Homo sapiens: one gene and its partner. The protein of the gene in region 1 purifies or fractionates together with the protein of each later gene. This does not show direct contact. Each region holds a gene or a part of one and is shown in the gene's direction. Other genes may lie near its edges.

Region 1 (3,500 bases):
GTCTCAAAAAAAAAATAATTCATTAATTAATTTTTAAAAAGAGCATGGAGTCCAGGCATGGTGGCTTACGCCTGTAATCCCAGCACTTTGGGAGGCCGAGGCAGGCGGATCACCTGAGGTCGGGAGTTTGAGACCAGCCTGACCAACATGGAGAAACCCCATCTCTATTAAAAATACAAAATTAGCCGGGTGTGGTGGCACATGCCTATAATCCCAGCTACTCAGGAGGCTGAGGCAGGAGAATCACTTGAACCTGGGAGGCAGAGGTTGCAGTGAGCTGAGATCGTGCCATTGCACTCCAGCCTGGGCAATAAGAGCGGAAACTCCGTCTCACAAAAAAAAAAAAAAAAAAAAAAGCCAGGCCTGGTAGCTCATGCCTGTAATCCTGGCACTTTGGGAGGCCAAGGCGGACAGATCACTTGAGGTCAGGAGTCCAACATGGTGAAACCCCATCTCTACTAAAAATACAAAAATTAGCTGTGCGTGGTGGCAGGTGCCTGTAATCCCAGCTACTCAAGAGGCTGAGGCGGTAGAATTGCTTGAACCTGGGAGGTGGAGGTTGCAGTGAGCTGAGATTGTGCCACTACACTCCAGCCTGGGTGACAGAGTGAAACTCTTTCTCAGAAAAAAAAAAAAAATTAGCTGAGTATGGTGGTGCTCCTGTAATCCCAGCTACACGGGAGGCTGAGGTGAGAGGATCACTTCAACCTGGGAGCTGGAGGCTGCAGTGAGCCGTGATTGTGCCACTGCACTCCAGCCTGGGCAACAGAGCGAGTCCTTGTCTTAAACAAGAATTGGGGGAGAGCTGGGGAGGGAATGAGAAAGAAAACAAACTTTTTTATCTGAGAAAGGAGAGCCCCTTTAGATGATCAGGATCAGGCCCAGAGGGGCTTTTTAACAACTTTTTTAAAAATTAATTAATTTATTTTTTGAGACAGAGTCTTACTCTGTCACCCAGGCTGGAGTACAGTGGCACAATCTCGGCTCACTGCAACCTCTGCCTCCCAGGTTTAAGCAATTCTCTGCCTCAGCCTCCCTAGTGGCTGGGATTATAGGCACTCACCACCACGCCTGGCTAATTTTTTTGTATTTTTAGTAGAGACGAGGTTTCACCATGTTGGCCAGGCTGGTCTTGAACTCCTGACCCCGTGATCCACCCACCTCAGCCTCCCAAAGTGCTGGGATTACAGGCATGAGCCACTGTGCCTGGCCTTTTTATTTTTTAATAGAGGTGGGGTTTCACTATGTTGTCCAGGCTGGTCTCAAACTCTTGGGCTCAAGTGATTCTCCTGCCTCAGCCTTTCAAACTCCTGGGATTACAGGTGTGAGCCACCGCACCTGGCTCAGAGGGACTTTATAAAAATGTATTTTAATTACTTTTTGAGACAGGGACTCACTCTGTTGCCCAGGCTGGAGTACCATCATAGCTCACAGCAGCCTCGAACCCCTGGGCTCAAGTGATCCTCTTGTATCAGCCTCCTGAGCAGCTGGGACCACAGGGGTGCACCACTATGACTGACTAATTTTTAACTTTTTTGTAGAGACAGGGTCTTTCTATGCTGCTCAGGCTGGTCTCGAACTCCTTGCCTCAAGCTGGGATTACAGGCATGAGCTACTGCACCCATCCAATAATTACCTTTTGAGGCTACTTGGTTTCTGGACTCTAGACGACCTGATACCAAGTAGCTCTAGAGTGTCACACACTCTATAGTTCAAACATGTATAGCCAATCACTAATCAATGTGATGTCTGTAAACCAATGACAATTCCTGATGAACAACTTTTGTAATCACCGCCTCTCTTGATTCGTCCTTTTTTCTTTAAAAAGTTGAGCCTTTGGCCGGGCGCGGCACCTCATGCCTGTAATCCCAGCACTTTGGGAGGCCGAGGCCGGCGGATCACGAGGTCAGGAGATCGAGACCATCTTGGCTAACGCGGTGAAACCCCGTCTCTACTAAAAATACAAAAAATTAGCTGGGCGCGGTGGCGGGCTCCTGTAGTCCCAGCTACTTGGGAGGCTGAGGCAGGAGAATGGCGTGAACCCGGGAGGCGGAGGTTGCAGTGAGCCGAGATTGCATCACTGCACTCCAGCCTGGGCAATAGAGCGAGACTCCGTCTCAAAAAAAAAAAAAGAAAAAAAAAAGGAAGGAGAAGGGTTGGTCACGGTGGCTCACACCTGTAATCCCAGCACTTTGGGATGCCAAGGCGGGTGGATCACTCATCAGGAGTTCAAGACCAGCCTGTCCAATATGGTGAGACCCCGTCTCTACTAAAAATACACAAAAAATTAGCTGGGCATGGTGGTGAGCACCTGTAATCCCAATTCCTCGTGAGGCTGAGGCAGGAGAATTGCTGGAACCTGGGAGATGGAGGTTGCAGTGAGCTGAGATTGCACCACTGCACTCCAGCCTGGGCAACAGAGCAAGACTCTATCTAAAAAAAAACGAAGGAGAAGAACACACATCAAAGCCTTTCCCTCACCCTTGCTTATGCAACAGCTGCACACAAACATCCACTCTCCATAACATCTTTATTCTCCGCATAGCACTTTTTAATTAATTAACTCAACAAATAGTTATATAGCACCAGCAACATGCGGAGCCCTGCGCATACAGCTATGAACACACAACAGAAGAAAATCCCTGTCCTTGCCAGGCACGGTGGCTCATGTCTTTGTAATCCCAGCACTTTGGGAGGCTAAGGCGGGCAGATCATGAGGTCAGGAGTTCGAGACCAGCCTGGCCAACATGGTGAAACTCCGTCTCTACTAAAAATACAAAAATTAGCCAGGCGTGGTGGTGGGCGCCTGTAATCCCAGCTTCTTATGAGGCTGAGGCAGGACAATCTCATGAACCCAGGAGGCAGAGGTTGAGGTGAGCTGAGATCACACCACTGCACTCCAGCCTGGGCGACAGAGCGAGACTCCATCTCAAAAAAAAAAAAAAAGTGGGGTTTTAGGTTTGTTCTCCCCACCTCCAGCAACTGAGCAACTGACCGGACAGAGCTGCCATTCACTGTGGCAGGAAAGCCTGGCGGGGGCGCTGTTGAACATGAACTGCCTGGTGGACGTCCTGGTGGGAATGGGCATTGGGCATGAGATCGTGGAGGTGGGGCTCTGGAGATACCAGCTTGCAGCTGACCAGTTTGAGGCTGGAGGAACTCAGGGGAGCAAGAGTAGGCAAAGAGGGGAGAGGCCTGGGGGCGGGCCCAGTGTCCAGGGAGCTTCAGGTGCTGACTCTGAGGTCGCATCCAAGATCCAGGTGAAATGTTCCCGGGAGGTTGGGCAATCCCCTGCTTAACCAGTGAACCCTGGCTCCTGTTCCAAATTTGTGTTGACTTTCTAGGATTAACCCAACACTAAAAACACCTCCACACATAAAACACACCTACACCTCAGCCCATGAAGAGTTAATATATGTGTGTGTGTGTGTGTGTGTGTGTGTGTGTGTATATATATATATATTTTCTTCTTTTCTTTTACTTTTTTTTTTTTTTTTTTT
Region 2 (3,944 bases), on another chromosome or scaffold:
CCTTCAGATACCTGGGCAGGGCAGCACTGTGTCTTCTATGTAGCTTGTATGTAGTTGCTAAGTATTTAATCATTCCCACAGATGATAGCTAATTGGCGTCTTTTAAATAACTTCTTCCCTTGGAATAATGTAAGTGGAATCATGAGAGGCTTGCCAGCTCAGTATGATTTTTGTATAGCTTGTTTAAACCTCATTTATAAAAGCTGACAAATGTAAAACTGGGATTTATTTTCATCTTTGTAATCAAACAGTAAGTTGAAGCTAACTTCAATAGTTAAACTGTCTTAATGAATTTGGAAATGAACTAGCTCTGCACCAAATACTTTGATGTTAAGTATTGTACAATTTCAGGAAGCATTGTCCTTGGAATTGTGGGACATGGCCTGACTGTAAGCTCTCAGAGAACCACAGATTTCCCAGGATAGGTTTAGAAAAGCTTATATTAGCATGGAATTATTTAGCAAAGGTTGAAAAATTTCCTGTAACATACAGGATGAGCATCCCACATCTGGAAACCTGAAATGCTTTAAAACAGAAAACTTTTTGAATACTGATATGATGCTCAAAGGAAATACTCATTGGTGCATTTTGGATTTCAGCCTCTTCAGATTTGGGATGCTTGACCGCTAAATACAATGCAAATATTTGAAAACCTGGAATCAACCGACACACTTCTGGTCCCAAGCATTTTGGATAAGGAATACTCAACCTGTATATGAATTGGGAAAGCAGTGTTTGGGTTTAGCAATGTAGCTAATCCCCTTTGTAATAAGTCTATGGAGAGAGAGGTTATGTAGAAAGGTTATGTTCATATTTTGAGAACATCTCCCATTTGTTAGGAAGGGAGAGGAGAGTTTGCTAGGAAAAAAGGGACCTATTTTATTTGGAGACAACCGTTTTCACCTTTTTGGTGGCTTAAAATCCTAACCTTTTTTGGAAGAGTCTTAACTGAAGCTTATTTTTTTAAGAGACAGTAAATCTGCAGAAATCACTTGGCAATAAGCTATTTTTTTTCTTTTTTTGAGATGGAGTTTTGCTCGTTGCCCAGGCTGTCAGTGGCACGATCTTTACTCACTGCAACCTTCGCTTCCAGGTTCAAGCGATTCTCCTGCCCCAGCCTCCCGAGTAGCTGGGATTACAGGCGCGCACCACCACGCCCGGCTAATTTTTGTTTCTTTAGTAGAGACGGGGTTTCACCATGTTGGCCAGGCTGGTCTCAGACTCTTGACCTCAGGAGATCCACCCGCCTCGGCCTCCCAAAGTGCTGGGATTACAGGCATGAGCCACTGTGCCTGGCCATACTTAACTTTTTGTTTTCTGTTTACATTTGGTATTTATTACAATTTCTCATACCAAGATCTATGAATATTAAATATAAATTTATATGCTGAAAAACAGTAAAAGAGAAGAAAGAGAAGATTGATAGAGAAATCGAGTGTACTAGGAATCTGCTGATTTTATTTGAAGGCATACATTTTGAGGTTCAGACTCCTACAGAGGGATCTTTGTTTTAAAGTGGTGCTTTGAAATTTATTTAGTGAACAATTTTTTTTTAAAGGTCTTGTTGCAGTAGGAGAAAGAGCACAAAAGAGGTCTGGGAACTTCTCTGCTGCAATGAAAGATCTGTCAGGTGAGAGCACGTTTTTGAATTTCCTCTTACCCTAATCCCACCTTGAATTCATTATTTGTTGCAGAAGTTGGTGGAAATAATTTAAAACTGGGTATTTCTCCCCCCTGCAGGCAAACATCCTGTGTCTGCTTTGATGGAGATCTGTAATAAAAGAAGGTGGCAACCACCTGAATTTCTATTGGTCCATGATAGTGGCCCTGATCATCGCAAACATTTTCTCTTTAGGGTAAATATGAATTTCTGCATTAATTATATATATTTATTAATGTGATGACTTAGAGGGTGAGGGGTAAACATGATCACAGGATTAAGATTCTGTTCATGGGTGGGGGGTTTGTATTTGTAGTTAAGTGGTGGGGTTTTTAAACACTGAAGGGTGCTTTAATACGACTTGTCAATGTCCTATTTTTTAAAAAATTGGAAAAGGGTAAAATATAGTATACAATTGTTATTTTCTAGTTGAATGTGGGGAATTAATTTAATACTTTTGTCAGTCTTTTTCTCAATTTGGAGACCTGCTCTAATTTGCAGTCCCTTTCCCAAATGATTTGGTTCTTCGGGTTGAGATTATAATTTGACTTACATAGTATGGGTTTTATATTTTTGTAAATTATTTTTCTAGCATTTAGTGAAAAAATACAAAGCTAATAGATATTAAAGTTTGATGCTGTTCTTATTGTATGTTTTTCTTGAATAGGTATTGAGAAATGGAGCCCTTACCAGACCCAATTGTATGTTTTTCTTGAATAGGTATTGATAAATGGAAGCGCTTACCAGCCCAGCTTTGCCAGCCCTAATAAGAAGCATGCTAAAGCCACAGCAGCTACTGTGGTTCTTCAAGCAATGGGCCTTGTACCAAAGGACCTCATGGCTAATGCCACTTGCTTCAGGAGTGCCTCACGTAGATAGATTGAGGTTTTATAATAATCATTTCAGAATTTTACTCTGCATCACAATGTATTTCCTCTTTAATGTTGTAAATATTTGGCAATTTAAGACATTGTGTAAAAAGCAATCTGTAAAAACATCTCCAGGCTTTGATTTTTGTACCATGGAAATTGTATTTAACCATACAGGGTTTTGGTATGTTTATATTGTTTACCTTAGTGATGTATTTGTTTAAGTGGCTAACATCCAAACGACTGTTTGAAGGCATCAGAGTAATCTTCAGTGTGGAATGTTAAATAACGCTTTTATACTGTATTTTGTACTATGATGTAACTCCCCTTCCTTATGGCTAGGCTACTGTAACACTTGCCTGTAATCAGTGAAGGGCTGTGCACCTTGTACTATTTCACAATGGGTTCTGCTGGACAGATAATGGGCCAGTGTTATTGAGGTGATCAAGATCTGTTCCACAGGGCTAATGCCACCATCTCCCCTCAAAATTTTGTAGAGGTTCTAAAAAGAAAGTGGTATGTTGTGTGATGATCAGCACTAAGTCCTGCATTCCTGTTAAAGCCACTTGGGTCATAAGAAGGGAGTAAAAAATGAAGTCTGACTAGAATTCTATTGCAGAGGCCAGTACATTTAGTATGGCATTGAGTTGTGATATAGTTTTACTTTGATGTGCATTTTGAATTTCAGCTACACCTAGATAGACGTAAAATGATAATTAAAATGCTGTAACCAACTTATCTAATAAAATTGGCAACCAGCCACTATTTTGTTGACTATGAGAAAGTTAAAAGTTTATGTTAATTTTTAGGGTCTGATAGAATATTTCATGTGTATTACAGTGGTATTCATATGCTATGTCTCTAAACTTTATTTTCAAAAGCTTAAGGCCCAAATACAAACTTCTCTGGAATAAACGTGGTGTTTTATTTTCTGGGTTATAAAGTGAACAAATACTTAGATACTATTATTTCTTTACCCAATGCTTTTGATTTTTAAGCACTTTTATTTTAAAAATGTGAATTATACAGTCCCCCCCTACACACACACACACACACACACACACACACACACACACACACACACACACACACACACACACACACACACACACACACACACACACACACACACACACCCCTATAAGCACATTAAATACTACTTTGCCGTGACAGCTCAGTGTACTTCACAATTCTTAACACTATTCTATGTGGAATACAAAATGCCTTTTTATCTGAATTAACATGCATTTAAAAAGTTTTAGTATATGTGAAAATAAAGGAATTATAAATCAGTAGGAAAGATATTAAGGTAGAAGCATCACCAATCAACTAGCTCAGTAGATGTTGTCTGTATTTATTTTCTACCTTTATGAAACAAGAACCTGCTAACAGGTAAATCGTAAAGTAACATATTT

What was found.
Region 2: the proteins of HSD17B14 (region 1) and SON purify together in Homo sapiens (affinity purification with mass spectrometry; one large-scale study listed by BioGRID and IntAct). This does not show direct contact.

The regions. Positions count from the first base shown.
Region 1 is NC_000019.10:48,826,492-48,829,991, reverse strand, and holds part of HSD17B14 (L-fucose dehydrogenase), read left to right. Parts: intron 1-3,500. UniProt on the Homo sapiens protein: Catalyzes the NAD(+)-dependent oxidation of L-fucose, yielding L-fucono-1,5-lactone, which rapidly converts spontaneously to L-fucone-1,4-lactone. Can also act on D-arabinose and L-galactose, with lower catalytic efficiency. Does not use NADPH.
Region 2 is NC_000021.9:33,574,038-33,577,981, forward strand, and holds the end of SON (protein SON), read left to right. Parts: intron 1-1,558; coding exon 1,559-1,630; intron 1,631-1,740; coding exon 1,741-1,856; intron 1,857-2,327; coding exon 2,328-2,387; 3' UTR 2,388-3,444; downstream 3,445-3,944. UniProt on the Homo sapiens protein: RNA-binding protein that acts as a mRNA splicing cofactor by promoting efficient splicing of transcripts that possess weak splice sites.